6 separate regions of the Homo sapiens genome follow, and all the other regions are reported to be linked to region 6. The links are microRNA targets in miRTarBase. Many come from high-throughput screens and were not tested one by one. Region 6 holds a microRNA gene; each other region holds the end of a gene's coding sequence.

Region 1 (5,101 bases), not on the chromosome of region 6:
GGAATTCGAGACCAGCCTGACCAACATAATGAAACCCTGTCTCTACTAAAAATACAAAATTAGGCTGGGCGCGGTGGCTTATGCCTATAATCCCAGCATTTTGGGAGGCTGAGGTGGGCGGATCATGAGGTCGGGAGATCAAGACCATCCTAGCTAACACGGTGAAACCCCGTCTCTACTAAAAATACAAAAGATTAGCTGGGCGTGGTGGCACACACCTGTAGTCCCAGCTACTCGGGAGGCTGAGGCAGGAGAACTGTTTAAACCCAGGAGGCGGAGGTTGCAGTGAGCCAAGATCACGCTACTGTACTCCAGCCTGGGTGACAGAGGGAGACTCCGTCTCAAAAAAAAAGAAAAAAAATTGCTTCTCATCATCTTCGTTGTCCTTTTTTTTTTTTTTTTTTTGAGATAGGGTCTCCCTATCGTCACCCAGGCTGGAGTGCAGTGGTGCCATCTCGGCTCACCCCAAACCTCTGCCTCCCAGGTTCAAGTGATTCTCCTGCTTAAGCCTCCCAAGTATCTAGGATTATAGGCGTGTGCCACCATGCCGGATTATTTTTGTAATTTTAGTAGAGACTGGGTTTTGCCTGGTTGGCCAGGCTGGTCTGAAACTCCTGACCTCAGGTGATCCGCCCGCCTCGGCCTCCCAAAGTGCTGGGATTACAGGCGTGAGCCACCTTGCCTGGCCACTCATCTTCATTTTCTTAGGCAAAACAATAATAACACGTAGTCCCCAGATTTTAAAGGTTAGCTTAAAGAGCCTGTCTCTCATTTTAGGAATGTGTGGGTTGTTCAGATTCTGGTGGGTGACCTGTATGTGTGTGGTCTTTATTTTGTTTTTTTTCAGCTGCCCGTGGAGCCCCACCTCTGCCACCCATTCTCAGGTGAAGCCTGGCTTGGTCCCGTTCCTCAGGAAAAGGATGGACCTTCTCTTCTTCTCAGATGGTCCCTTCCATTCCCCTGAAACCTGCATGAGAGCTCCTAACATGTTTCTCCAATGCAATCAAGCCCTAGACTCCAAATGTCCTCCCAGCTCACCTCCATCTATGCATCTCATCTCTGGATTTGGTGATCAGACTCTATATTGACAGTAGGATCTCAAACCCTGCATCCATCCTTCCTCCAGCAAGCCCTGCTAGCCACATGAGGAACAAGTTTCCGTGTCTTCTGCCTTCCTCTTGGGGAAAGGTGCCTTGTTGTGATGAATTAACTCACTGTTAGGGCAGGGTGGAGAATGGTACTCCTTCCTTCTCCTGTCCACTGTGGGGGAAGCTTGGCAGGTATATTATATTTCATCATTTAGGAGGCTGGCATGACCAGGACTTATGGGTGGGAGGGGAGCATTTTTAGTGAAGCAAGAAAGGAGTTTGCCAAGAAGTGATCTGTTTTAAAGGTCATATTTGGAGAAAGGGCAAGGAATTGGGTCTGCTTTATTTTTGGGGGTATTTTGTTTTTGTTCTCACCTGCTGCCCCCCCACCCCACCACCCCAGGGATAAATTGGATATAAACACTAAATACTAATCAGTTGAACTTAACATTTAATAAAAAGAAAGGGTGAAATAAACTGAAGACCATTTTAGAACTAGTCAGTTCTCTGCAGCAAAGGGAACAGGAGCCATTTGAACCCTCTGGGACCCCTCACCCCACTGCTTCAGGGTGCTAGGCTGAGGGATGTTTTTCCTCCCCCTTACCGCCCATGCCCTTGAAAGAAAAGTCACTTTTTGTGGAGGGCATCATTCATTCCTGATTCACAAACCCCAAAAACCTCTGGTGGGAGATAGGAAGATAGGGCGTGGGCCTGGGCCTTAACCTCAATCTTGTGTCTGCCTCAGTCTTTTCTGACTGGCCCTGAAGTTGTCAGTGGCTCTTTCTGTCCTTCAGCCCCTGGAAGGTGCTCCAGGATAACAAAGAAGGGCAGGTTGAAGCCCCTCATGGAAGGAGCTGGCTTTGTGGGGCTGCAAAGGACTTTTAAGTCCTGCCTGTACTGAAGTTCACAGCCCACCTGACTGAGCAGACTCTTCCTGTTCCTTTCTCTACCACCCTTGCCTTCCCAGGACTGCACGGTTTAACACAGCAGAGTACAGAAGGGTGAAGAAGTGAGCAGAGGCTTATGAAGATATTCAGATACTCTTCTATGCCAGGAAGCACAAAGACTTTGTTGAGATTTGCCTCAGTTCAGTAGATCTTCCTTGGCAGCCAGCCATAGGTTGTTTCTTTGTCTTCCGGGTCCTAAAGAGCACAGAGAAAATGGAGGTCCCCAGTCTAGGTAGGAAGCTGATTGGATGAGGACTTCTTTTTTTCCGACAGCAGGATGGGGCTCTTGGGCTCCACACACCAGATGCTTTGGTTTTCTACAACTGTTGCTATGTGTAGAGGGTGCTCAGAGCGTGGCATGAGAGCAAGGAGACCATGGCTACTCTTTGAAATGGATGGGGAAAATTAGCTTAAAAATTTAATCACGAGATTGCGCCACTGCACTCCAGCCTGGGCGACAGAGCCAGACTCCGTCTCAAAAAAAAAAAAAAAAAAAAAATTTAATCACACACATCACAGGCTTAAACTGTCTTAGAGACCTTTCCAGTTGATTGGATCACAGGCTAGGGATCTGTGCATGGTGCCAGGTGAAACCCAAGTCTCCCCAGTGCTAGGTGAGGGAGGGCTCAACGGGGGTAATGTGTATGGGGTCTGCTGTCCTTTGCCATCCCCTGGACCATATTAACTCTGGGACAGACCATGATTAGGTCTGTCACCAAACTTTTCCTAATCATTTTTTATGTATCATTCTTCTTTCTAATCTGTTAGCAGTTATCTCCCAGAAGTATCCCTAGCATCCTGAAGCAAACAGAACTGCCGGGCGCTGTGGCTTATGCCTGTAATCTCAGCAATTTGGGAGGCCGAGGCGGGCGGATCACCTGAGGTCAGAAGTTCGAGACCAGCCTGTCCAACATGGTGAAACCCCGTCTCCACTAAAAACACAAAAATTATCTGGGCGTGGTGGCATGTGCCTGTAGTCCCAGCTACTGGGGAGGCTGAGGCAGGAGAATCGCTTGAATCCAGGAGGTGGAGGTTGCAGTGAGTGGAGATGGCGCCACTGCGCTCCAGCCCGGGTGACAGAGTGAAACTCCATCTCAGAAAACAAACAAACCAAACAACTGAGAGAGGGCATGCTAGTGGAGGGAAAAGGAGAGAGTACAAGAGTTGATACTGCATCAGAGTTCCAGGGCAGATACTGACAAGTGACTGAACTTTGACTGTGAAGTCTTCCCATTTATTTTTGAAATGGGAGTCGATGCCTTTTGTACGTTATCAAAGTGTTTTTTTTTTTTTCCTCCTTTACTCAGACATAGAGCATCAAAATATCACGAGTAAAGCCAAACCCCAGCTTTTCACTGGGGCTGATATCTTCCTCCCCATGGCCCACTGCCCCCTCATATTCCCCAGCACTTGGACTGTGTCACATGGGTATTGATTGTATACTTGTTGTCTTGGCCTCATGCAAAAAGGCCTGGGTCTAGATCTAGTCAGATGAGTTTTTTTTAGAGCATGTTGATGATACAACACCTGTTTAAATGTCTGCCTTATATGTTATTTGGTCCCACTGTTAATAATAGATTTATTACTATGTATATTTACTATTGAAGATGGGAATGTGATCTGCATAGTTATCAGTCTATTTTGTATGTTGTAAAAAGCTTCTAATTTAGGTTTAAGGTGGGCTGGCTACAAGAGCACTAAAACTCCTCACCTTTTAAACTGCTCTTTTTATCTGCTTGTGGGAATGTCGTCTCTTTCGTGGAAGATTGGGTGGTCTCATGTTGAGGCTGTTGCCCAGTCCCATTAACTCCCTTGTCCCCCCACAGAAGGAAGAGACATTGCCCAGCTAAGCATCAGGAAGCTGTGTTAAAAGCCCTTCTATGGGTTTGGTTTTGTGATGTTTTTCCCTAATGGGAAAAACGTTATAGTTGTTTCTTACTGCCCTGTCTGGGAAGCAGGGCAAACCTCCAGGTTTTTAAATGAGCTAGATGCCCCTCTTCCTCTTCTCTGGTCACTGAACCTGGACCAAAGCACTTTGATATTCCAGGTGTGATTTTCTCTGTCATGGGGATTTGCTCCACTGCAGAGCCCCATCATTTTCACAGCGTAGGCCAACAGAGTGAGAACCTAGGGCTACCCTAGCTGATGGATGTGAGGCTGCTGTCTACAGGAGCTCATCCCAGCCCTGTTAACTGGCAGTGGCAAGGATACTCGTCATCGGCCATTGCACTGGGGAACTCCCTCACCCCATGGCTTCCCAACTTGAAACCCAGATTTACCTCCAGGGAGAGGTGAGAAAAAAATTGTAAATAGACTTGCTAAAGAGCAACTCAGGGTTGGGGTGTGTTTTAATTCTCCTGATCACTTGAAATAATCTGTAGGCTGAGTGCTTATGGGGGTGGGGGAGAAGGGTGACTCCAGGGTCCTTCCATTTTGTGAAGCTCTGGGGGTGGAGTGTGGGCATCTGAGGCCCTATGATGGCACTACATTGAGCTGTCTGCCCTTCCGGAAACCCAACCTGCAATCAACTGCAAATCAAATTCTTCACATTCCAGCTACAGTCTTTCTTTCCCCATTGAATCTCAGTCCCTGGCCATGTGGTCAAGGTGGCTTTCTGTTAAGCTACCCTAATTTCGGGAATGGGAGGGGAGAGAGGAGGGCCATTACAACTCTGCCTTCAAGACTCATCTCTTAAAAACAAAACGAAACAAAACTACAACCACCATCAAAACCACACGCAAAAAAAAAAAAAAAAAAAAAAAGGATAACTTTAACCGAAGGAAGGGTTTGGTTCCATTCAACTCCACATTCATTGTGCCTTTACTTGCATTAGATTTCTGTGCTTTCTTCCTTTCCCTCTTTGAAGCAATTAAAATCTTCCTTGATAACTGCTGTTTCTTTCTACTCTTGTTTCTGGCAATTTAGTGGGTTCCTTCTCTAGTGGTCTTAAATCTCATTCCACTGGTGGCAAGATGGGGCCTAGCCTTCTTTTCACATGTCTAATCTTTTCCTTTCTCATGGTGCCCTCCATGGAAGTCACAGTCAACACTGAATAAATGACTAGAA
Region 2 (5,101 bases), not on the chromosome of region 6:
GAATACAGAGTAGGAAGCTTTTATTAGGAATGTCAAAGTAGTGGAGCGGGAATAACAAAAACCAGAAGAAGCTTCACTTGATTATAATTAATTTGCAGTGGTTGGTAAAGGCAGGCACCAAGCCAGATTCACCACTTTATAAATAATAAATCTGTGGGGGTGATGTTGTGAAAGATGCATGGTAAGGTTGCATCAGCAAGGTGAATCACTGAGTGGGTGGGACCGTCTAGAAAAGCATCTGTGTTTGGAAAGGGATCATTCTACAGCTTAGTCCAGAACACCTTGAACACACAGCATAGCAGAATCTTGACTGTAATACTTGGAGCAAATGTCACTGGCAAAAATGGCATATATGCTGGGATGTTCATAACAAATAGTTAAATATTGTTGGTCCTTTCGCATATAGAATCTCGGTATTAGAGGAAAATAGTAAACTGAAACTCTATTTCTGTTCTGCAAGAGCCAATTTCACCTATTGTATTACTTCGTTACCAATTGCAGCTGTGTAGTCAGTCATCCATAGGATTCTTTTTGTTAGACACAAAGTAGAAACCAGCTGTTGGCCGTTGAGACAAGTAGGAATCTTAGGAAATGTTAGCCTGCCAGTTCCTACTTTTCCTAACTACCTGCCTCACCACCCCCATCAAATGGTGGTCATGTTTTTTGTCACCCACCATTCAGGGGAGATGCTATCAACGAACCACGCTGGCTACACACAAATACCTTTTCCTCAGATGATATTAATCATCTTTGCCTTAAAAACTGAAGCTCTACCAAGTTTTCACTATGAGAGAAAAAAAATTACAACACCTAGCCTTGTAGTTAACACCACAACTGACTAATGGAAGTTGACAAGATCTAAATGCTTATACAAACTATCCCAAGGTCACAGGAAATTAATGGCAATATTATACAAGGTTAGGGTAGTTCACTTTCTATAGGAATTTGGATTTTACTTCTTAAACTACAATGGAAATGTCTCAGGCAGTCTGCTTTGGGAATGTATTCTTGAATAATACTGATTTCTCATTGAAGGAAAAAACACTATATCCAACAACTCAGATATGGCAGAAGTGAAGTCAATGTTCCGGGAAGTTCTTCCAAAGCAAGGTATGTACATCACAAATATTGAGGTCATTGATTATTACAGGACTAAAGAAGTCATAGGCAGTGTCACATAGCAGGCTTAATAGCTAAACATCTGCAGCTATTGTGTTCCGTATTATCTCATTTACTGTCTTTTACTATATGCTTTTTCATGACATCCAGTAAAAGGATAACAAATGAAACATTGTTTCTTATACCTAAAATTGCCTATTAATTAGCTAATTCCTAAAATTCCTAATTACAATATGAATTTTTTTTAAGAGACAGGTTGTCACTCTGCCACCCAGGCTTGGGTACAGCTGGCACAACCGTAGCTCACCGCAGCCTTGAACTACTGGGCTCCTGCCCTAGCCTACTGATTTGCTAGTACTACAGGCATGTGCTACCATGCCTGGCTAATTTGTTCTTATTTTTGTAGAGAAGGGATCTCAATGTGTTGCCTAGGCTGGTCTCAAACCCCTGGGCTCAAACAAACAATCCAACCCCTTTGGCATCCCAAAGTGCTGGGATAACAGGTAAGAGCTACCATGCCCTACTCAATATGAAACTTCAGTGAAAGAAATAATGGAATTTACTATGTTAAATAAGGTCTGAAAGTGGAGAAAGAGAAACCTGAAGCAACAGTAAGAAAAGCCGAAGGTTTAAACCTTCAGTCATTTGAATATTTACGTTAAATATCATATTTTGCTATATTTTTTTGCACTATGTATATATATATTCTGCCAAATCTTATTTTAAGATTAAACTTCTGACACAAAAAGTTGTGTCTTATGGTAGCATAGATTCTTGGGTAGAACGCTCAAAACTTGTCTTCCTCAGAAGCACCCTACTAGTAAGAAATGCGCTTATAGAATGACAATGATCTTTCTGGTTCCAGAGCAAAACTCAATTTAGGTACAAGAGTTTTTCAGTGACAAGAGATTAATTTTTTAGACCTTCATTCTAGCTGCAAATCCAACTACAAACAACTGGGTTATCTTTCTTGAATTAATTCTTATTTCTTGTTAAACTTAGGGCCACTGTTTGTGGAAGATATAATGACAATGGTGCTGTGTAAACCCAAACTTTTACCCTTAAAATCTCTGACTCTGGAAAAACTAGAGAAAATGCATCAAGCAGCACAGAATACAATTCGCCAACAAGAAATGGCAGAAAAGGATCAACGGCAAATAACCCACTGAATGATAACTGAGCACTTTAGGGAACAACCTGCCTTATCTACTATTTAACAATAACTAGAAAATATGCTTCTGTGTGCTGAAAGTAGTATGTGTTATCAATAAAATTGATAGTATTCATAGAAATACAAAAATATCCAAGATTGATGAAATTTGTATTGTGAATGTAAACACTCTGGTTTGTATTGAACATAAACAGTTAAACTATGAACCAAGTTTTATGGGGTTTAAGTCATGTTTTTAGAATTGCAAATTAAATTATTTGTTCACCATTCCTATTGCTATCTTTTATAGATAACATTCTTGGGATCTTTTATAGCATTCTTGGGCACAAGGGATTAAATACAACTTTTATATACAGAGGATCTTTACATGTTTATTAAATCTGAATTTGAAGATACATTCCAATCTTGCATAAAGTGTTTGTTGGGCTTTTACATTACGTAATTAAAAAACAAAATTTTTTAACCAATTTTATGTGCCATGTCACGTTTAATGCTATCTTGTGTGACCAGATCCCACCAGTAATGACAAAACTGTCTTAAACCTCATTTTTTTTTTTTTTTGAGACAAGAGTTTCACTCTTGTTGCCCAAACGAGAGCAATGGCACCATCTCGACTCACTGCAACCTCTGCCTCCCAGGTTCAAGCAATTCTCCTGCCTCAGCCTCCCAAGTAGCTGGGATTACACGCATGCGCCACCATGCCTGGCTACTTTTGTATTTTTAATAGAGACAGGGTTTCTTCATGTTGGTCAAGCTGGTCATGAACTCCCAACCTCAAGTGATCCGCCCACCTCGGCCTCCCAAAGTGCTGGGATTACAGGCATGAGCCACCGTGCCCAGCCCTTAAATCTCATTTTTAAGAAACCCTCACCTATTCTGTAGTCAGCTAAGCTTTTAATTACATTAATTTTAAGCACTTGAGAATAAAATGACTGCATTTATCATCCAAGTGTCAAACAATTAAAAACCTAAAAATGGTAACTATATATAAGCTGAGGTAATATGGGCTTGATAAAGCCCATGAGGTAAATATGAACACTAAACTTGGTTTTAATTCTAACAGACTATATCTAAACCTGTAAGCAGTATACTCCTAACAGTACCCTCATAAATTCTGAATATAATTCTTGTTTGCTGCAGTCAATATTTGGCAGTTTAAATTAGCACAGACGTTGAGGCCTTGCTGAGTTATTAGGCTATGTAAAAGAGGTTAAAAATATGATCATTCTTTATTGTTAATTGGTAATATTTTCTCATACATTAGGTAAATGTCAAGCTTTGGGTCTCTGGAGTATAACTTTTTGTAACATTAGCCATTATTTGGTAACAGAATTTAAGGATGATGGAATGATGGAAGGTATTACATATTTCTAAAACTTAATTAAGCTCTAGGTCAGATAACAATGGAGTAAAGTGATACCTGCATTTTTTTCCCCAGTGTAATCTTAATTTACTATTGTATTTTTCACTTAAAATTTTGTAGGGAAAAAAAGTTTTCAAGGGAACACTAAGATTAAATTGACTAGGTTCAAATATGCTTCCTTATGAGATTCAAAATTTACTGTGTGAAATTAAAGTTTAAGAGACCTAAAAAAATGTACTCCCAATAAAGAATCAATACTGCTTCACATGTTTTATTTTGGTGTACATTCTTCTAGAACCAGGTTCATTTTTCCAGTTTTGTAGAAAAATAGATGTTCCAGCCACCTTTTACTTAACTGTCTAGTCTTTTAAGACCAATCAGTATGTTCCCTGGAAAGATGAATAAGTCTCATGACTAATTTTTTAAAAATTCTTTAAGACAAAGAAATAACTTTCTTTTTTTACTCCCAAAGCACAGTATCTCAACAGCAGCAGCCAACATGGGGTTTTAGCAGCTTAACTTTACCCCCTAAATAAAGCTTTGTATAAACCAGTGATTTTACTACAAAAAACACTGTCCTTGAAAGAAAGGAGTGGCAGTCAGACATCAATGCAAAACTTGGAATGATTAGATAATAAACATGGCACTTACAAAAGGTAGCTTATTAGAATATTCCACTTAAGAAGAGGTTACTTTTCTGTCCCTCCTTGCCCCCTCGAAAAACAAAAAAAAAAGAAAAAACATTTCCTTTAAAAATTCCCCTTAAATGTAGGTTTATAAAATGTCAGAAATGCCTTGTACCCAAAACAAGTGCTTAAAAAAAAAAAAAAAAAAAACTTGTGCTAACAACTCTTACAATTCAGATATATATTTTTATAACATCTAAGACTGCAAGAGTTCTTATATTCAGTAGCTCTCTGGTTTAAGACGACCTCCATCTCCTTCGCTTACAAAACGCTTTCTGCCCCTGTAATGAAGAAAAAAAAAGACATGAAAACAGATACAAATTCTGACTATAGTCAATATATAAAAAAATTAAAAACTTGGTATTTTTTCGTTACGTGTTAGCTTTTAAAGGGTTTTCCATTAAAAAAAAAAAGCATGCCTCTAATTCCTTTGGAAAAGACTCCCTACTATATATCTTAGCATAAAACATCAATATCAAATCTGAGTTTTTGTTTTAATAAGTTCACTATCCAAACAGAGTCACATTAAAAAAAGTTGACTCAAACTAAAACATTTTATTTAGAAATTTAAAATTATTTCTAATTAATTTCTAATTATTATTTGTAAGCTTAACAGTAAGCCAAATAGGAAACACTAACATAATTCAGAATTATGCAAACTGGAGCTGTGCAACCTATCAAAATATCCATGTTTGGCAATTTAAAAAAAAATGTTTTATCAACTGTAGAAAAGCCATAACTTGAATGTGGAAAAAAATCAGA
Region 3 (5,101 bases), not on the chromosome of region 6:
AGCATTCGGTATCCCTTTGAAAGCTGGCAGTACCTGTATGCATTTCAGCTCAATTCAGGAAGTTATTTGCCTTTAGTGGTGTTTCTTGTTTCCTCTGGGATGCTGATTGTCTCTTTGTATACACACCACAAGAAGATGAAGGTCCATTCAGCTGGTAGGAGGGATGTCCGGGCCAAGGCTCACATCACTGCGCTGAAGTCCTTGGGCTGCTTCCTCTTACTTCACCTGGTTTATATCATGGCCAGCCCCTTCTCCATCACCTCCAAGACTTATCCTCCTGATCTCACCAGTGTCTTCATCTGGGAGACACTCATGGCAGCCTATCCTTCTCTTCATTCTCTCATATTGATCATGGGGATTCCTAGGGTGAAGCAGACTTGTCAGAAGATCCTGTGGAAGACAGTGTGTGCTCGGAGATGCTGGGGCCCATGATCTGGGAAGAAAAGTGTGGTCAGGACACTCTTGGGACGCTCTTTTGATAGCTCTCTATAAGGGAGCTGCTTTCCATGTCTTTTAAGATTTTCCTTCTTTTACACCAATGTAATGAATGAGCAACAGAAAATACGGATCAAAACCCAATACTATGTCTCTTTTGGCAATGCAAAGTATATTTTTTTAATGTACCACAGAAATCAAGGCTAGGGCTTCATGTTTGGTAAAAGAGGTATTATATTCTCTCTACATATAGCAAATAATTCATATATAAATCGTGTTTTTCCTATTATAAAAAGCAGAGATTAGGAACAATTCTGTCTACATATAGCAAAAATTCATATATAAATTGTGTTTTTCCTAGTATAGAAAACAGAGATTAGGAACAATTATAGTGATCATTAATTTTTATGAAATTTTACCTATACATTAATGTTAGTCATTTTAGATATGCTTTTTAAAAAGTATCAAATAATTTCCCCATTTCTCTGCTGTAATGTATCTAATTATCTAACTGAAAAACAAAACAAAACATCTTTATATTTCTGGAAGTTTCTTTGAGCCCTAGCCTTGGCTTTCAGAATAAAAATCAGGCTCACGCCTGTAATCCCAGCGCTTTGGGAGGCTGAGGCGGGCGGATCACGAGGTCAAGAGATCAAGACCAAATTAGCCGGGCGCGGTGGCGGGCGCCTGTAGTCCCAGCTACTCGGGAGGCTGAGGCAGGAGAATGGCGTGAACCCGGGAAGCGGAGCTTGCAGTGAGCCGAGATTGCGCCACTGCAGTCCGCAGTCCGGCCTGGGCGACAGAGCGGGACTCCGTCTCAAAAAAAAAAAAAAAAAGAGATCAAGACCATCCTGGCTAACATGATTAAACCCCATCTCTACTAAAAATACAAAAAATTAGCCTGGTGTGTTGGCGGGCACCTGTAGTCCCAGCTACTCGGGAGGCTGAGGCGGGAGAATGGCATGAACCCAGGAGGTGGAGATGGCAGTGAGCCGAGACCATGCCACTGCACTCCAGCCTGGGCAACAGAGCGAGATGCCGTCTCAAAAAAAAAAAAAAAAGCAGAATAAAAGTCAGTTGGATGCCATGATCTGTATTAAGCTCCAAGGCCCAGGAACTGAAGTGGGGCAATATGAGAATGAGGGGCACTTGATTCTGCTTAAAAAAAATAGACTGCCTTTGAAGAGGTCACGCTGTCTGCTCTTCAGTCATTTAGCCATTTTGCCTGTCTACTGTGGCCTCACCACAGCCTACAGTCAGAGTTCTAGTGTGCCAGGTCTTTGAGTTGGAGGGAGATCATTTAGAATGCCAGATCCATGGCAGTAGGAACTGTGTCTGTTTTTATTTTCTCCCACGTCTCTGTGACTAGAACACTGCCTATTGCATAATAAACGCTTAATAAATATTTTGTAAATGACTGAATAGCTGTGCTAACTGGTTTTACAATGCCTCCTTTGTATTGTAGGTAGAGAAACTGATGCCCAGAGAGGGGCAGTGGCCTGCCCTGGGTTTCATAGAGAGCCTGTGGCAGTGCTGGGACTAGAGCTGTTTCTTGACTCCTGGTGCAGGGCTCTTTCCTTTACAACATGCTACTTTCCTAATGTCCTTCCCTCCTTGGAACCCCATGCCTCTTTCTACAGACCCTTCTACACAACTTATTCTCTTCCTTCTTTCTAGCCTTCTTTGTTTCAGTTCCAGGGGGATCTGAAATCCAAAGGACAACACTTGGCATTCTTAAATATTTTTTTTTCACTTCCTATGGATCACACTAATCTACTTTCATTAATCTATTCTCTCAAACATATCTTTTTCTTACCTGAATCTGAGAATTGAGGTACATGCTAGGCACATGTGGATATTAGTCATCACACAGGGGGAGATTGGTTCCACTGTCACTGTGAGTTGTGTGAGGTCAAGTACCATATTTTATGTCCTGGGAAGGATCATATTCATTCTTTTTAAATAGAAAGGTGCTTCTGCTTGGTTATATTTTTGTTAGTAGGATGAATTTTCATTATACCATTTCTATTTTTTTTACAGATGTCCTTTGTGACCAATTGTTGTAATAGTGACAATAGTATTTAACATTTGTATTGGGCTTTACATTTTACCAGACAATCTCATATATAGTCCATTATCTCATTTGATTTTAATAGCAACTCTATGCAGTAACCAATTTTATCCCCAATTCACAGGTGACAAAACTCAGGCTGGAGTGATGGTTTGCCCAGGATCATGAACTTGTAAATAATGCAGATGGAGCAGACCCAAATTTTTTGACTCCGAGTCTTGTGCTCTTTCCAGTAAATCCTAAGTATCTCATTGTTCATACTTGTAAGACTTCAAACTAGGATTAGCCTGTGGAACTTCCCTCAAGTTTATGAGTATTTTTACACACATGCAATAAGCAACTAATCTTTCAAATTTGGTATTGATGGGATGCCTGGGTGCTAAGATCCAAAATCACAACAGATCAAAGTTTATGATCTGCTTTTCTTAGTGACAAGGTATGGAATCAACCTAAGTGTCCATCAACACATGAACAGATAAGGAAAATGTAGTGTATGCATGTATGTGTATCTGTTTCATTTTCTACTTTTCTGTACTGTTCAAATTGTTTTTAGCCATGCTCAAATATCACATTTGAACATTTGAACAGATAAAAAAATGTAGTATACATATGTATGTGTATATATGTATACACACACACAATGGAATATTATTCAGCTTTAAAAAAGAAGGAAATCTTGTCATTTGAAAAAATGTGGATGAACCAGGAGGACCATTATGCTAACTGAAATAAGCCACATACAGAAAGACAAATACTGTAAGATCTCACAGATGTGTGGAATTTCAAAAAGCCAAACTCACAGAAGCAGAGTAGGATGGTGGTTGCCAGGGCCTGGGACGTGGGGGAAATAGGGAGATGTTTGGTGTCTGTTAGGAAGAATGAATAAGCTCTGGAGAGCTAATGTACAGCATAGTGACTATAGTTAATAGAACCGTATTATATACTTGAAATTTGTGAAGAGAGTAGATGTTAAATGTTTTCACTAACAACAACAACAAAGATAATTGTGAGGTGGTGGATATATTAACTTGATTGTGGTACTCATTTCACAGTGTATACATATGTCAAAACATCATGTTGCATACTGTAGATATATACCATTTTTGTCAATCATTCCTCAATAAAGCAGGAAAAATTATTGCATTTTCCACATCACCTTTTGGGATTTGATTTCCTTCTTTTTCTGTACACAATTTACCTTATGATGCGTATGAGACTGCTTTGTGTTTTAGCAAAGAAAACAAATGGGAAGGCAAATATATACTCTTGAATTGATTCCTATGTAATTGAATCTTTTATAATTTGCATTCTTAGAGTTGCAGCTGGATCCATGTGTGCGTGTGTGTGTGTGTGTGTGTGTGTGTGTAGATGTTAATGGCCTTACATTTAATTATGTGATATGCTCTGTGGTGGTGTAGCCGAGAGGAGACGTGAAATGTTAAAAATGTGATATGTGAGCATGGCTAAAAACGATTTGAACAGGACAGAAAGGTAGAAAATGAACAGCAACGTTTTTCCCTCCCACCTTCTATTATTAGTCCCACTGCCTGGATATAATGGTATCTTATCACTTGTGTTAGTTCTTTTAGTGGTTATTTTTTACGACTCTGAATGGTAAGATTTTGGCTCTCTTACTTGTTTTATCAGCTTTAAACTGTAGCCTTTGAGTTCCATTCATCAAGGTTTGGGGATTATCTCATTTTGCCCCTAATCCATTTTCCTCTCCTAAATTGATTAGTTTTATTTTGTTGTTCTAACAGTCATTACTTTTACAATTGTAAGTAATATATTTTCTACACTGCTTTTTTGAACCATGCCTTATGACAGTATCCACAGAGTCCCGATTATGTAGGAGGAAGAAATTAGTGCTTCACCAGTCCTGCACTTCTCCCATATCCCAACTCCTGTCACCTGTGGTATCAGTTATAAACAACTTCATATGACTTCAGGAGAAAGTACACTTATCAAAAGGAAATTGGCTAGATTATAGAACCAGGGAGAAGGCTGGAGAGTCAACCTCAGAATGGGAACCAAGAGGGGTTAAATAAACAAGAACACAATCAAGTCACACTACAGGGACTGATGCTGGCACCACCTCTCCTGTTCAGCTGTTAACATTGTGTTCTTGACACTGCCACTGCCTCTGAGACTGTGTCTCTTCGAGCCATCCTGGGTGGGATTTTTGGCTGGCTGATTCTAGATCACAGGCCTAACCTAGCTGACAGGCCCTGGGGTGAGGAAAAGCCTGGTTTCCCTTTGGCTTCTGAAATATGCACTTTTAAATTAGGTGAAATAAATTATTCCACCATTGAATTAAGCAGCAGAATGGGTACAGCTCCTGGTGTGGAATTGATGCACTGGAAGGCCAGCTCTAGAACTCTCGCAGGAGATATGGCAAAGTAATAAAGTGATGGGAAATTTAAAAGCAAAGCAATATGGCACACAGAAATAAAAGGACACTCATAGGTGTGATTGGAGCCCCAGAAGGAGATGGAAAAAATAAGCACAAGGAATGAAATATTTGAAGAATTAATGACCAAGAATTGCATTAACGATGAAAAAAGACTAAAAGGGCTCAAGGGGTGTCAAAGAAGA
Region 4 (5,101 bases), not on the chromosome of region 6:
CGGCCGAGCTGAGGACTGCACGCCGCTGTGCGGAAGCCCGTGGCGAAGGCCCTGCCCTAACAGCCTGCGAGTCTAATCCGGGAGCGGCTGCTGCCAGCGGAGGCGACAGCAGCGTTGGGAGCTCCTCGATGTCAGCTTTTTGTGCTGGACTTGGCACACGCTCTGAAAACTGAGATTTTGTCATTGAACTGGTGACAGGATGTGAGACGGTTATTAGAAGTTGCTTTCGAAGTAACTGTGGTCTTAGGTTCGGCTGAGTAAAGAAAAAGGATTTTTCTTCGAGTTAGCTGCTCTTGTGATTTTTCTCAGGCTGTTTTGTCATTTTAAAATCCAGTGGTAGATGTAGCTTAGCGACGGTAGTTTTTTGTTTTGGCTATACTAAGACTTGGAAATTATTCTCTCCAGTGTCAGCGAATCCAGAAGGGTATCAGATTAAACACCGAATTCAGCCACTGGACTTTTAAAAGTACTTAAGATGGTTTATCTCGGGTTTTTTCTTCAGTTAACAAAATCATAAATATGGTGCCTTATAACATGAAAGGAAAATTAGTTGTGTATTTCACGACGAAAGCGACGGACCAAAAGAAATTTCCTGCCCCAAGAAGCATGGGATCCAGGAAGGGGCGCGTAGATGCTTAACGGTCTCTTCGGAAATCCTGCAAATAGAAAGATAATTCTAGATCCGGAATACCTGTATCTGGTGGAAACCATGGATTTCTACAAGCTCGAATTATTCCTCATTGTATAGCCTGCTTTGTAAACTAGTTTACAATTTGCAGGCTGATCTTAAGATTTTTTTATATCTAATTGCTGCTGCCTTCATTTTAGGTTCAGCAGTTACTTTTAACTACCTTAATTTATTGCCAGAAGGTATGAGCCTAACATTCTGATGAGTCCAGAAAACTACGTTTTGTCAGTAGCAATACACTAGGAAGTAAAATATATTTAGAATTTAAACATTGTGTGCCAGTGGTCCTCGCGCTTGACTGCACATCAGTTACTTGAAGAGCCACACCTCAGATCAATGCAGTCAGAACCTGGGAAGTAGGTCCCAGACATCAGGACCTTTTTAAAGCTCCCCAAGTGATTCTACGTTCCCCAAGTTTGAGGACCACTTTTCTGTGCATTGGCTTGCACAATTTGAAAGTAATGCTTTTCCTGAGCTGGATCCCAGTGTTGCCTTAACAGGGTGTCTGTCGTGCCGCAGTAGAGCACTGCTGCTTCCTCCAACCCCAAAATTTATGTTCCTAAGTAAGTCAGGTCCCTAAGCCCCGTCCCAAGAAGTGACACAAGTGGCCAACATCCACACTGTAGGCTTGCAGGCTACCCGCCCTGAGATTTGGTAAAGAACACTGCCTTGTTCCCCATCAGTAAACAAGGTTACCTACCTCAGGAGGCTGCTTGTGAGAGAGCAAATGCAGTATCTTCAGAATGATTTATTTTTTTAATTAATTGTAAAGACTTGTGCCATTGGCTGCTCTTTCTAGTCCCCTAAATTTCTGTTCTAGTTTTAAATTTCTCTAGAACTTGCAATAGTTGGGGGTTTTATAATGATGTTTTACAATGTTTATTTCTTAAATAAAAACTTAAAAATTCAACATTTCTCAGCTGGTGGCTCACACCTGTAATCCCAGCATTTTGGGAGGCCAAGGCGGGAGGATCACTTGAGGCCAGGAGTTCAAGACCAGCCTGGGCAACACAGTTAAACCCCATCGCCACAGAAAATCTTCAAAAAATTTGCCAGATATGGTGGCACACAACTGTGATCCCAGCTACTTGGGGTGGGGCTGAGGTGGGAAGATCACTTGAGCCCAGGAGGTTGAGGCTGCAGTGAACTGTGATCACACCACTGCACCACAGCCTAGGCAACAGCGAGACCTTGTCTCAAAAATTTTTTCTCAAATCAAACATCATTGAAAATCTACTTTTTATAAGCTTCAAATCACAACATCTAGTATGTATGCTGACAGTGATGTTTTTAAATGCCATATATATTTAATAAGTATAATGTAGAGGTTTATTGTTTAAATGAATTCACTCTCAAAATGTGATCTGTCAAGTCCAGTAGAGCTTCAAGGTAAAATGAAAATTTTTAAATGTGATCTGGTTATCTGCTTACTGAGATACTATGTTTCTAAAGTTAAAGCCCAAAATAATGAAAATTTTTCCACTAGAATCTCAGGGAAAAAAAGTCTAATCTTGATATGGGTTTGGTCTCTGGATCCGGTTTTAGCTTCATGAAATTTGATTACAGTTTCTCTCTCTTTAAGCTATACCAGTTGGGGGTGAGTGAAGAAATACCCATAACCTAAAGCAATCTTGAGCCTCCTAATAGCATGTTTATGGTGGAGCGCTGATTAAATAAGCTGTAATTTCAAAGTTAAAAAAAAAATAGTCTCTAGATTCTAACACTGAAAAGCAGTGTATATGGCTGACATTTTCTCACTCCACAGAAATCAATTAGCTTTTGCTGTTTTTTACATTCATAGAGAACCAGTTAAATTTTCATATCCTGTTAAACTATATCAGTATGCCTTTTCTAAGCAACCATTGAAACTTCCAGCACCAGCGGCCAGGTACTGTGGCTCAGATCTGCAATCCCAGCACTTTGGGAGGCCACAGCAGGTGGACCGCTTGAGCCCAGGAGTTTGAAACCAGCATAGACAAAGTGGTGAAACTCCATCTCTACAAAAAACACACACACAAAAAATTAGCTGGGCATGGTGGCATATGCCTGTAGTCCTAGCTACTAGGGAGGCTGAGGCAGGGTCAAAGCTGAAGTGAGCCGTGATTGCACCACTGCACTCCTGGCTGGGTGACAGAGCAAGACTCTGTCAAAAAAGGAAAAGAAAAAAAGAAACTTCCAGCACCACTAAATTTGCCAAATAAATTTGACTGATGCCAAAACTGAAGCTGCCAATGTAATGAAATGTTAAGGTGGCCATAGGACAGTCCTTTTAATAAAAGCTTCCATGTAAAACCAAAATAAAGGTCAGTATAGAAAGTATCATGGGGTATATAACAAACTGAATTTTTGGCTTCCAATCCAAACTGGGCTAAATGGTATGTTTATTTTAAACAAGGAATTTGCCATGGACAAGATCTATCTGGCTTACTGTGAGTTAGAAGTACGCCCTGCCGTAACACTGGTATTTCCACATAGTATGGAAGAGGAAGAGAGGAAAACTTAATTAAGTGTTGCAAAATTGTTTGAGGACCTATTTTGGTCCATTCCTTATCAACTCCATGTGTGATTTCAAGTTATCTAAAGGGCATGTGACTTTATTTCTGACTAACATCAAGTTCCTCTCCTCATCATAACAAGGCGATTCAAACCTAAACTGTGATTCTTAGGAGATGCTTCCAAGGGGAAGCTCCCTCGTTGGACATCCAGAAGATTGCATTTTCTCTTCAGAGTACAATTTTCCATCTGTCAGAGCATGTCTGAATAAAAATTTGAACCTACTACAAACTACATTAGAATAATTTTCAAGTATTTTTCTGTCACAAAAATGGTGTGACAGAATGTGTTGAAAAACACAAAGTTCACAGCTGAGATTAATTTAGATAACCTAGTGGTTAATATGCTCATGAACATCAGCAACAACCGTGCATTCCTTGGCAGATGGGATGCGATGGAAACCAAAGGTTTCCTTAAGGCAAGCACTTCACAACTAGTTTTCTGTCAATTCTTGCGTAAATCACATTCTGTATTCATACAAAAACTTTGTTTTTCTCTGACAAACTGTACACATAGAAACAAATTTCCAAATGGACAGGAACTTAAATTTGTGGAGATGCCCCATGTCTTGTGAGACTTAAAAAAAAGAAAAAGATCCCAGCTTTTATCTTCACAAAACAACATGGGAGTTGGGGCAATGAGGGTGGACAGGACAGGGCCAGCCAGGCTGGTAGCTGGCAGCAGTCTCTTCATCTTGAAGACCTCATTGAGGGTTCCTGGGATTCAGGTGCCCAGAAAAGAGTTCAGGGCTACAATGGTGCAGGCTTCCTTTTGTTTCTCTTGGTGAGTCCACAAGAAGTTCTTACATACTGTCCAGAGAGGCCTCAGGGTACTCAGTTCCAGCTTCTACCGACCCCTTCCACCACCCCGTGAAGCTCCTCGCCTCGGCGGGCCAGAGTTCATGTTACTCCCTCTACCCCAGTTACTGCCACTCCGGCCCCCTCGAGAAGGGGTGCCACTGCCTGGAGGGCCCCCAAAAGGTTCATCTCTGTGGTATCCATCGTGGTGCTCTCCGTCTAAGGAGCTGGAACGCCCAGATTTGGGCACTCTCTGAGCAGGTCCTGGGCCCCCTCGGCCTGAAACAAAGAAAATTTCACATGGGACTTTTTGTATTAGCAACTGTTTGTCAGTAACTCCCAGTACAAACTTTACTCTCTGATGACAATGGACCAGTTCTGGTGGGTGCCAGGGAGACTGGCAGTGGTATTCAGCGTACTGAGAGGTGTGCCTCTACCCTTTCCTGACCCTGCCTCCCCCTTCCTGGCTCATGGCCATGGGCCTCAGCATCAGCCAGATCCATGCCCCCAGGGCTGTGTGACAGACGACAGGAAGCCAAGAGATGAGCAAGGAGCACCTTCAGGGAGACCCGGGCCACACTGGGCCATGTCCCAGGCCATGGGAAGTGTATCTGCCTGCTCCCAGCCACCAGGGTATATTGAGGGAAGGTTTGAATATACTGACTTAACTTTGGAAGTACACACTGCTAATGTTAATAAAAAGTGCTCCAACTAGGACAAGCGTTCACTGGGACTGTCCCGTGACATGTGGCACTTTTGGCTTCCTTTTCATAATTAGTAAAATAAAGTATTTCTTGAAAAAACAAAAGAAAAGCACAAAAACCCAAAAACCCCACAAAACACTGGCTTTCAGGTTCTATCACCGAGGCACAGCTTAACCTGCTTCAGACTAGTATGCACAAATGTTTAGGTACTATTAAAATTCTTTCATTCTGTTGCAGCTTGAGAATATATTTAAAAAAAAAAAAAAAAGAAAAAAAAGAAAGGAAAAGGAAAAAAAATTCTATCTTGTAAGATTTTTTTCCTCAGGAAATGATAGGATTTGGTCACATCTCCCATAATG
Region 5 (5,033 bases), not on the chromosome of region 6:
ACTTGAGCATTTTGCCTGAAATGTTTCCTAATGTCATGTTTATCTTTATAATCCATGATGAAAGAACAAAACTGATAGAAGTAGTGTTGCAGTATGAGTAAGTGCCTCAAAAAAAAAAATCTTTTTTTCCTTATGAACAACAGCAGGCAAACCTAGGAATACTGAAGATGGAAGGAAATCCAAAAGCAAGCCTTAGGCATTAAGAGAATGCTATCACCCTCTAAAAATGATTTGCTTCTTATCCTTCTCACTGACAAGACAACAGTGATCCATCCCAGAAAACCTAAAGTAAAAGAGATGAAGTGATTTTGTCTTCATCACACTAGAGTCTTAGCTTAATACCTTGTTTATTGAAATGCCTAAACTTGTCTTTTTTACTCTTACCAGTTATGGAAGATGCATCAATTTTGTGAAGATTTTTGTTTTATACTTCACCAAAGATCTACCATTTATGTTTTTAAAAAATTTTATTTTCCAGGAGAAAGATCACCAACATTCCTTGAACGCCACACATCATGCTGATAAAATTCCTTTCCTTCAGTCACTCGGTATGCCAAGGTAAAGGAGAGCCCAGTATTTTATGTTTTTCTGTGGGATAATTGCCCCACAGAAATGTAGTTAATGGTGGGTTATTGACAGAACTTCTTGTTCTCCTTCGTCTCTATTATTTATCTTAAATAAATTACCCAGTGACCAAAACTTGTTCCAGCTTTTACTAGTAGAAAGCATTCTAAGAGACCTAGTTACTATTACAAATAATGGAATCTTTCAGTATCATTAAGTTACAACCCAGGATCAACATTAGCTCTTTTAATTTCAGTATCGTCCCTGATTTAAAGAGGTAACTGGCACTTTCTGACAGTTCTTCTCCAGTGGTTTCTTTCCCTCTTAATGAAGTTCTAGGGATTTCAGATTCTACTTGATTTTCTGAAATCTCTGAATGTTTTTATTATGTCAGTCTTTTTGTCCTTTAATTTCTGACAGCATTACCCACCTGGTAGTACCTCTTTTCCTTTTGTGTTTGTTGTTTTTATTAATTTAATCTAGGTATGAGATCTTATGAATTTTTTTACTTGAATTTCTTGACTCTGCTGGTAACCTTCATCCCATTTAAAATGTTTGTTTTTAATACACAAAGAGAATATAAATATTAAAAGAGAACAAAGAAGGACACATTTGACTTCTATACAATGCATAAACATTTGACAGATGATGAAGGAAATCTGATTTACTTACTACTTTTTTTTTTCCTTTTTCTCTAGTCCTCCTAGAACTCCAGTAAAAGTTGTGCCTCAAATTAGAATAGAACTTGAACCTGAAGACAATGATTATTTCTGGAGGAGCAAGGGAACAGAAACTACATTGTAACCTGTTTGTCTTTCTTAAAACTGACATTTGTTGTTAATGTCATTTGTTTTTGTTTGGCTGTTTGTTTATTTTTTAACTTTTATTTCGTCTCAGTTTTTGGTCACAGGCCAAATAATACAGCGCTCTCTCTGCTTCTCTCTTGCATAGACACAATCAAGACAATAGTGCACCGTTCCTTAAAAACAGCATCTGAGGAATCCCCCTTTTGTTCTTAAACTTTCAGATGTGTCCTTTGATAACCAAATTCTGTCACTCAAGACACAGACACGCACAGACCCTGTCCTTTGCCTCTATTAAGCAGAGGATGGAAGTATTAAGGATTTTGTAACACCTTTTATGAAAATGTTGAAGGAACTTAAAACTTTAGCTTTGGAGCTGTGCTTACTGGCTTGTCTTTGTCTGGTAGAACAAACCTTGACCTCCAGACAGAGTCCCTTCTCACTTATAGAGCTCTCCAGGACTGGAAAAAGTGCTGCTATTTTAACTTGCTCTTGCTTGTAAATCCTAATCTTAGAGTTATCAAAAGAAGAAAAAACTGAAGGTACTTTACTCCCTATAGAGAAACCATTGCCATCATTGTAGCAAGTGCTGGAATGTCCCTTTTTTCCTATGCAACTTTTTTTAACCCTTTAATGAACTTATCTGTTGAGTACATTGAAGAATATTTTTCTTCCTAGATTTTGTTGTTTAAATTATGGGGCCTAACCTGCCACTTATTTTTTGTCAATTTTTAAAACTTTTTTTTAATTACTGTAAAGAAAATGAATTTTTTCCTGCAGCAGGAAACATAGTTTTGAGTAGTTCTACCTCTTATTTGTAGCTGCCAGGCTTTCTGTAAAAATTGTATTGTATATAATGTGATTTTTACACATACATACACACACAAATACACAATCTCTAGGGTAAGCCAGAAGGCAAGATCAGATTAAAAACACCATGTTTCTAAGCATCCATTTTTCCCTTTCTTTAAAAGAAACTTAACTGTTCTATGAAGGAGATTGAGGGAGAAGAGACAAACTCCTATGTCATGAGAATAACCGATGTTCTGATAATAGTAGCATCTAGGTACAGATGCTGGTTGTATTACCACGTCAATGTCCTATGCAGTATTGTTAGACATTTTCTCATTTTGAAATATTTGTGTGTTTGTGTATGTGCTCTGTGCCATGGCTGGTGTATATATGTGCAATGTTAGAAGGCAAAAGAGTGATGGTAGGCAGAGGGCAAAGTCATTGAATCTCTTATGCCAGTTTTCATAAAACCCAAACCACATATGAAAAAATCCATTAAGGGTCCAAGAAGTCTGTCCATATGAAAATGAGGGTAAATATAGTTTATTTCCCAGGTATCAGTCATTATAATTGATATAATAGCTCTAACATGCAATATAAAATTCATAGGAGTATTAATAGCCCATTTACACATCTATAAAATGTAATGGGATTGCAGAGCTGCAGAGTACAGTGTAACAGTACTCTCATGCAATTTTTTTCAGGATGCAAAGGCAATTATTCTTTGTAAGCGGGACATTTAGAATATATTTGTGTACATATTATATGTATGTATATTTCAAAGTACCACACTGAAAATTAGACATTTATTAACCAAATTTAACGTGGTATTTAAAGGTAATATTTTTAATATGATACATTACATATTGTGAATGTATACTAAAAAAACATTTTAAATGTTAAAATTATAATTTCAGATTCATATAACCACAACTGTGATATATCCTAACTATAACCAGTTGTTGAGGGGTATACTAGAAGCAGAATGAAACCACATTTTTTGGTTTGATAATATGCACTTATTGACTCCCACTCATTGTTATGTTAATTAAGTTATTATTCTGTCTCCTTGTAATTTTGATTACAAAAATTTTATTATCCTGAGTTAGCTGTTACTTTTACAGTACCTGATACTCCTAAAACTTTTAACTTATACAAATTAGTCAATAATGACCCCAATTTTTTCATTAAAATAATAGTGGTGAATTATATGTTATTGTGTTAAAACCTCACTTGCCAAATTCTGGCTTCACATTTGTATTTAGGGCTATCCTTAAAATGATGAGTCTATATTATCTAGCTTTCTATTACCCTAATATAAACTGGTATAAGAAGACTTTCCTTTTTTCTTTATGCATGGAAGCATCAATAAATTGTTTAAAAACCATGTATAGTAAATTCAGCTTAACCCGTGATCTTCTTAAGTTAAAGGTACTTTTGTTTTATAAAAGCTCTAGATAAAACTTTCTTTTCTGATCATGAATCAAGTATCTGTGGTTTCATGCCCCTCTCTATACCTTTCAAAGAACTCCTGAAGCAACTTAACTCATCATTTCAGCCTCTGAGTAGAGGTAAAACCTATGTGTACTTCTGTTTATGATCCATATTGATATTTATGACATGAACACAGAATAGTACCTTACATTTGCTAAACAGACAGTTAATATCAAATCCTTTCAATATTCTGGGAACCCAGGGAAGTTTTTAAAAATGTCATTACTTTCAAAGGAACAGAAGTAGTTAACCAAACTAACAAGCAAAACCTGAGGTTTACCTAGTGACACCAAATTATCGGTATTTTAACTGAATTTACCCATTGACTAAGAATGAACCAGATTTGGTGGTGGTTTTGTTTCTATGCAAACTGGACACAAATTACAACAGTAAATTTTTTTATAAGTGCTTCTCCCTTCTCCATGATGTGACTTCCGGAGATAAAGGATTCAAAAGATAAAGACAAAGTACGCTCAGAGTTGTTAACCAGAAAGTCCTGGCTGTGGTTGCAGAAACACTGTTGGAAGAAAAGAGATGACTAAGTCAAGTGTCTGCCTTATCAAAAGAGCAAAAATGCCTCTGGTTTTGTGTTTGGGAGAAAAGTATCTTGGACGCACTGTTTTCCTTGATAAAAGTCATCTTCTCTACTGTGTGAAATGAATACTTGGAATTCTAATTGTTTTGTGTGCCAGGGGCAGTAATGTCCCTGCCTCTTCTCCCAATCAAGGTTGAGGAGTGGGGCTGGGGAGAGGACTTAACTGACTTAAGAAGTAGGAAAACAAAAACCTCTCTCCTCAGCCTTCCACCTCCAAGAGAGGAGGAAAAACAGTTGTCTGCTGTCTGTAATTCAGTTTGCGTGTATTTTATGCTCATGCACCAACCCATACAGAGTAAATCTTTTATCAACTGTATACTGGTGTTTAATAGAGAATGATTGTCTTCCGAGTTTTTTGGTTCCTTTTTTAACTGTGTTAAAGTACTTGAAATGTATTGACTGCTGACTATATTTTAAAAACAAAATGAAATAATTTGAGTTGTATTACAGAGGTTGACATTGTTCAGGGATGGGACAAAGCCTTCTTCAATCCTTTTCATACTACTTAATGATTTTGGTGCAGGAACCTGAGATTTTCTGATTTATATTTCATGATATTTCACATTTGCTCTTCACAGCATGAGCATGAAGCCCAGTGGCACCAAATGGCTGGGTACAATCAAGTGATATTTTGTAGCACCTCACTATCTGAAAGGCCATGAGTTTTCAGATGATTTCATTGAGCTTCATTGCAGCCTGAAATTTTAAAAAAGTTGTGTAATACGCCAACCAGTCAAGTTGTGTTTTGGCCAGAGATTTAGATATGTCCAATTTCCTGGCTCATT
Region 6 (5,000 bases):
GCCTGCCCCTGCCCAGACTGAGGCTCTTTCCCAACTGTTCTGCTCAGTGAGGACACTGACTGCCAAGGAGGAGCTTCTGCAGACCCTGCGGTGAGGCCCCGAGAGCCCCCCTTCCCCGGGCCCTGACCCCCACTCATGCCCCTGAGAGCCCCCTTCCCCGGGCCCTGACCCCCACTCATGCCCCTGAGAGCCCCCCTTCCCCGGGCCCTGACCCCCACTCATGCCCCTGAGAGCCCCCCTTCCCCGGGCCCTGACCCCCACTCATGCCCGAGAGCCCCCTTCCCCGGGCCCTGACCCCCACTCATGCCCCTGAGAGCCCCCCTTCCCCGGGCCCTGACCCCCACTCATACCTGAGAGCCCCCCTTCCCCGGGCCCTGACCCCCACTCATACCCCTGAGAGCCCCCCTTCCCCGGGCCCTGACCCCCACTCATACCCGAGAGCCCCCCTTCCCCGGGTCCTGCACCCCCCAGGCCCCTGAGACGCTCTGTGCTTTAGGACCCACCTGATCCTCCACATGGCCCGAGCCCACGGCTACTCCAAGGTCATGACTGGGGACAGCTGCACACGCTTGGCTATCAAGCTCATGACCAACCTGGCGCTGGGTCGAGGGGCCTTCCTGGCCTGGGATACGGTAGGCAGGGGCCTGGGTGTTCAGGAGGCCCATCCTCACCTTCACCCCTTCGGCCACCTTTACTGGAGAGTAGCCTCTCGCGTATCAGTCCTGCGGCCTCGGATGGTGGTGGGGTCTGTGACCTCCCCTACCTGGCAGGGGAGGAGGGGCAAGCACATTCGGGCCTTGACCTGGACCACACAGCCCCTGCCTCCCGCAGGGCTTCTCGGATGAGCGGCACGGGGACGTGGTGGTGGTGCGGCCCATGCGGGACCACACCCTGAAGGAGGTCGCTTTCTACAACCGCCTGTTCTCCGTTCCTTCTGTCTTCACACCAGCCGTCGACACCAAGGTGGGCCTTGTGGGCTGGGCAACCTCTCTCACCATTGACACCGGGGTGGGCCATGTGGGCTGGGCAGCCTCTCACAGGCTCAGGTCACCAGCACACCTTCAGTGACTCCTGCTGTGGCCCCCAGCAGTGCTGCATCCTCTGAGCCCACCCTGTGCCGTGAGGGTGTGGGGGTGACAGGAGGACCCCACAGTGGGTGCACTGCTGAAGCGGGTTCTCTGGCTGCCTTGAGCAGTCGCAGCAAAGCCAGACCCATGTGGGCCAGCAGCGTGGAACCCACGGCACCTGTCCTGGGGACTCTGCCCCAGCCTGGGGCTGGCCTCTGGGCTTTCCCATAGCCTCCAATCTGATTGTCCCTAGGCCCCTGAAAAGGCCAGCATCCACCGGCTGATGGAGGCCTTCATCCTCAGGCTGCAGACCCAGTTCCCCTCCACTGTCAGCACTGTGTACAGGTGTGGGTGTGTGTGGGTGTGTGCGGGGGGTGCGCGGGTGTGTGCTGTGCGCGGGTGTGTGCGGGTGGTGAGCTCACCACTCGTGCTCAGGCCAGGGCTTAGGGTGGAGCCCCAGCCCGTGTGATTCACCTGCTCCTCCCACAATCCGGCCACAGGACAAGTGAGAAGCTGGTGAAGGGCCCCCGGGATGGCCCTGCTGCTGGCGACTCCGGCCCCCGCTGCCTCCTCTGCATGTGTGCCCTGGACGTCGACGCCGCTGGTCTGTGTTTCATGCTCTTGGGGTGATGCGGGGAGGGAGCCAGGGAGTGGGTGTGGGGGCTCAGCAGCCCCAGGCTCCGTCACCCCCTCTCTGCTTGCAGACAGTGCCACGGCTTTTGGGGCTCAGACCTCCTCGCGTCTCTCCCAGATGCAGTCACCCATCCCCCTGACTGAGACCCGGACACCCCCGGGGCCCTGCTGTTCTCCAGGGGTGGGCTGGGCCCAGCGCTGTGGCCAGGGGGCCTGCAGGAGGTGAGTCCCTGTCCCTGCCACCCATGGCCAGCTGCATGGGGCGGGAGGGGGACCTGTCCTTACCCCACACTGCACGGCATTGAGGTGCCAAGGTGGGCACACAGCCAGCTCTGCTCCCGCAGGGAGGACCCCCAAGCCTGCATTGAGGAGCAGCTGTGCTACAGCTGCCGCGTGAACATGAAGGACTTGGTGAGTACGTGCCCACCTGTCCTGGGCCGGGCTTGGGGACGCGGGAAGGCCGTCACCTCGTGGGTGGCTTGAGGGGGTGCTGGCAGGTTTCTTGGCCCCTCGACACCGGCCTCTGTTGCAGCCCTCACTGGACCCCCTGCCGCCGTACATCCTGGCTGAGGCCCAGCTCCGCACACAGAGGTACTGGGGCCCACACTGCCGTGGCGCGTGGGTAAGGGGCCTCGGGGCTGGTGCCCACTGCAGCTTTCTCTCTAGGGCCTGGGGCTTGCAGGAGATCCGGGACTGTCTGATTGAGGACAGTGACGACGAGGCGGGCCAGAGCTGAGCGTGAGGACGTGCTTGCCGGGACAGCAGGCAGTGGCCACCTGGTACACCACACTGGAGCCGGAAGGCAAGGACGGGGGACTGGCCTCTGATTGTCCATTTGTATAAATAAAACATTTTTTAATTAAAAAAAAAACTCTACAGTACACGTGGGGGACGGCAGCGCCACGCAGGCCGTGGGGACGCAGTGTCCTTCTCTGACAGCAGCATCAGGGCTCAGGCAGGCCGGGAGGATGCATCACAGCTGGCGGCCTTGGACGGGGCAGTGGCTCCCCCGGCCTGAGGAGTGCCGCCCCTTGTGGCCACGCTGCCCAGCAGGCCGGCTCCTTCCCTCTCGGGCGCCAGCAGCAGCTCCTACTCCTTCTCACGAGTCCACTTGATCATGGTCTCCGGTGAGCGGTAGAGGAAGATGAGCTTGGCGTACAACTCCTCCTCCAGCTCCAGCTCCCGAGTCTCCCGCACCAGGAAGATGTCCTGGCAGAGCTTGAGGATGCGGTCCACGCACGGCAGCTCCTCGAACATAATGGAGTGCGAGATCTCGCTGAAGAATCCGCGCACGAACTTGCCGATGACCAGCACGATGGACACGTACAGCCCCATGATGCTGCGGGGGAAGCTGGTGAGTCCTGGGGCCGCCCGGAGCCCCCCGAGCTGCGGGGTGCCCCCCCAGCCACTCACTCACCCGTAGCCAGCCAGGAAGCCGAGGCTCGGTGGGCTGACCTTGTCACTGAAAATGACCATGGGCAGCAGGTTGCAGTCGGTCCGGCACTCCTGCAGCTCGATGACCCACCATTCGAGGAAGCCGGTGGCCCCCGCACCCTGCTCCCTCCGCAGCTGGATACGCACGCCGAGGTAGTCGGCCTCCTCATCTGGGATGGAGGGAGAAGATCGTTGAGGCCGCAGGTCACCCCTCTCTAGCCTCCCCCAACCCCCACGCCCATACTCACTGGGCTGCAGCTGCTTCACAGGGTTGGCTTCGGGCCCGTTGGGGGCACGGATGTACTTGGGGAAGAGATTAGGGATGACCCTGCAGGGAGGTGCTGGCAGGTCAGGCCTGGCCCAGCCAACCTGGCACAGCCCTCCTGCCCACCACCCGGGCCCTTCACTCACACAGACTGGTCCGAGGTGCCCTCGAGCAGGCTGGCCAGCTGCCGCCGTGCAGTGCTGTTGGGGGCCAGGGCCAGCATGTGCTTCTCGTTGGCATACTCCACAGTGCCTCCCTTCGCCAGGTCCCTGGGGGTGGGAACACAGCGTGACCCACTGTAGTGGGTCCACCCACCCAGGCACTGCCCCAAGTCCAGGACGAACCTCTGGAAGTTCCAGGTGAAGCGCAGGGTGATGTCGGCCGTGCCGTTGTAGAGCTCCCGCTTCATCTGGGCACGGCTGGGGGGACTGATGCGCCACAGCGCCCCGGAGCTGCCCTCAATCTGCGCCGTGACGATGTCCTCAGGGCTGTACTGGCTGATGAACTGCATGGCCAGCTGGGTACAAGTGACACCCTCAGTGACTGCAGCCGCCTCCCCACACCAGCTTTCACAGGGCAGAGGCCACTTACCGGCTGGGGGTCAAACTGCCGGGACAGCTCCTCATAGGCCTGGGCCGTGAAGGGGATGATGGACGGCTGCTGGGCGCTCATGGTGAACAGCGGCTGGGGCAGGCACGGGGACACGGGGCCACGAAGATGAGCGTGGAGGAGCGGCTGGGGGTGGTGCACCACCTTGGCCAGAACCCCCAGGGGATGGGAATGGACAGGCGGACCCACACATGCTCACCTCATAGCCGCCCAGCTTCAGGGTGACGGTGACATCGATGGGCTGGTTGACAACCCCAACCACGGAGCGCACCAGCGACATGAAGAGCAGTGGGAACCAGATGATGGCGATGAGGAAGAGGATGATGAGGCCACCCATGCCGTACTTGACGATCTTCTTCTTCTTCTGCCCTTTGGGCTGCGGGTATTTCTGGAGGGGAACGACACAGGTCATACGCTCAGCTCTGCCCTTCCTGCGGGTCACACAACCGCATTCTCCAGCTCACCCAGCAGCCCAGAAAAGCCCCAGCCTGACCTCAGTATGGCACAGCGGTAGTAATGGTGGGCAGACACAGGCCAGTGGAGTAGAACTAAGAGTCCAGTTGGAACCCTCATGTTCAGGGGTCGTTGATCTTAGACAAGGGAGCTGTGACCGTTCAGTGGGAACGGACAACCTTTTTCAACACGGTGCAGGCACCGCCCCAGGCAGGAGAATGAAACGCAACTCCTGCCTCATACCATGTGCCAAAATTTACCTCAAAGTGGATCAAAGAGCGAAACTTCAGAGCTAAAACTATAGAACTTTTAGAAGAAAACGGGCAAATCTTCATGAACCTGGATTTGGCGAAGGAAACAAAGTAAACCAGATATTACCAAAATAAATACTTTGTGCTTCCAAAGACACCAAGAAAATTTAAGAGACAGTCCATAGAATTGGAGAAATTTTCTGCAAATTTTAATTGATAAGGTTCTAGCAACCAGAGAATACAGAGAATTCTTCCAATTCAGTCATTTCTAGCCAATGTATCTGCAGA

What was found. The annotated mature microRNA hsa-miR-4722-3p reads ACCUGCCAGCACCUCCCUGCAG and lies in region 6 at 3,463-3,484, opposite strand. An mRNA with a match to its seed (bases 2 to 7 or 8) in the 3' UTR can be bound and repressed. Matches are read on the target gene's strand: a 7mer-m8 pairs with bases 2 to 8, a 7mer-A1 pairs with bases 2 to 7 and ends in A, and an 8mer does both.
Region 1: miRTarBase lists WIPF2 as a target of hsa-miR-4722-3p. Seed matches in the 3' UTR shown: 7mer-m8 at 1,275-1,281 and 7mer-A1 at 3,035-3,041.
Region 2: the mRNA of PDCD4 is a reported target of hsa-miR-4722-3p. Seed matches in the 3' UTR shown: 7mer-A1 at 2,942-2,948.
Region 3: the mRNA of TAS2R5 is a reported target of hsa-miR-4722-3p. The part of its 3' UTR that is shown has no 7-base or 8-base seed match.
Region 4: the mRNA of WDR33 is a reported target of hsa-miR-4722-3p. Seed matches in the 3' UTR shown: 7mer-A1 at 591-597.
Region 5: the mRNA of SLC4A4 is a reported target of hsa-miR-4722-3p. The part of its 3' UTR that is shown has no 7-base or 8-base seed match.

Annotation. Positions count from the first base shown.
Region 1 is chr17:40,277,338-40,282,438 of GRCh38, forward strand. It overlaps WIPF2 (WAS/WASL interacting protein family member 2), which reads left to right. Exons shown (of 8, transcript NM_133264.5): 8 at 848-5,101. The coding sequence ends at 888. Among named protein-coding and RNA genes, the nearest start is that of CDC6, 8.0 kb to the right of the region's middle. RefSeq lists enhancers at 3,709-4,645, 4,646-5,101.
Region 2 is chr10:110,897,547-110,902,647 of GRCh38, reverse strand. It overlaps PDCD4 (programmed cell death 4), which reads right to left. Exons shown (of 12, transcript NM_014456.5): 12 at 2,642-4,620. The coding sequence ends at 4,560. It overlaps BBIP1 (BBSome interacting protein 1), which reads left to right. Exons shown (of 4, transcript NM_001195305.3): 3 at 1,036-1,110; 4 at 2,122-3,918. The coding sequence ends at 2,288. MIR4680 (microRNA 4680) reads right to left here and starts at 4,558; the gene lies at 4,493-4,558.
Region 3 is chr7:141,790,830-141,795,930 of GRCh38, forward strand. TAS2R5 (taste 2 receptor member 5) reads left to right here. Exons shown (of 1, transcript NM_018980.3): 1 at 1-538. The coding sequence ends at 432. Among named protein-coding and RNA genes, the nearest start is that of TAS2R5, 3.2 kb to the left of the region's middle.
Region 4 is chr2:127,702,236-127,707,336 of GRCh38, forward strand. It overlaps WDR33 (WD repeat domain 33), which reads right to left. Exons shown (of 22, transcript NM_018383.5): 22 at 1-4,317. The coding sequence ends at 4,088. It overlaps SFT2D3 (SFT2 domain containing 3), which reads left to right. Exons shown (of 1, transcript NM_032740.4): 1 at 1-3,007. Among named protein-coding and RNA genes, the nearest start is that of SFT2D3, 3.3 kb to the left of the region's middle. RefSeq lists a silencer at 1-20.
Region 5 is chr4:71,566,526-71,571,558 of GRCh38, forward strand. SLC4A4 (solute carrier family 4 member 4) reads left to right here. Exons shown (of 26, transcript NM_001098484.3): 25 at 479-558; 26 at 1,263-5,033. The coding sequence ends at 522. Among named protein-coding and RNA genes, the nearest start is that of GC, 220 kb to the right of the region's middle.
Region 6 is chr16:88,712,816-88,717,815 of GRCh38, forward strand. MIR4722 (microRNA 4722) reads right to left here and starts at 3,522; the gene lies at 3,463-3,522. It overlaps CTU2 (cytosolic thiouridylase subunit 2), which reads left to right. Exons shown (of 15, transcript NM_001012759.3): 7 at 1-90; 8 at 497-632; 9 at 832-963; 10 at 1,321-1,412; 11 at 1,568-1,671; 12 at 1,772-1,922; 13 at 2,045-2,111; 14 at 2,233-2,291; 15 at 2,367-2,581. The coding sequence ends at 2,436. PIEZO1 (piezo type mechanosensitive ion channel component 1 (Er blood group)) reads right to left here. Exons shown (of 51, transcript NM_001142864.4): 45 at 4,208-4,396; 46 at 3,991-4,083; 47 at 3,744-3,916; 48 at 3,546-3,668; 49 at 3,383-3,462; 50 at 3,118-3,304; 51 at 2,523-3,039. The coding sequence ends at 2,790.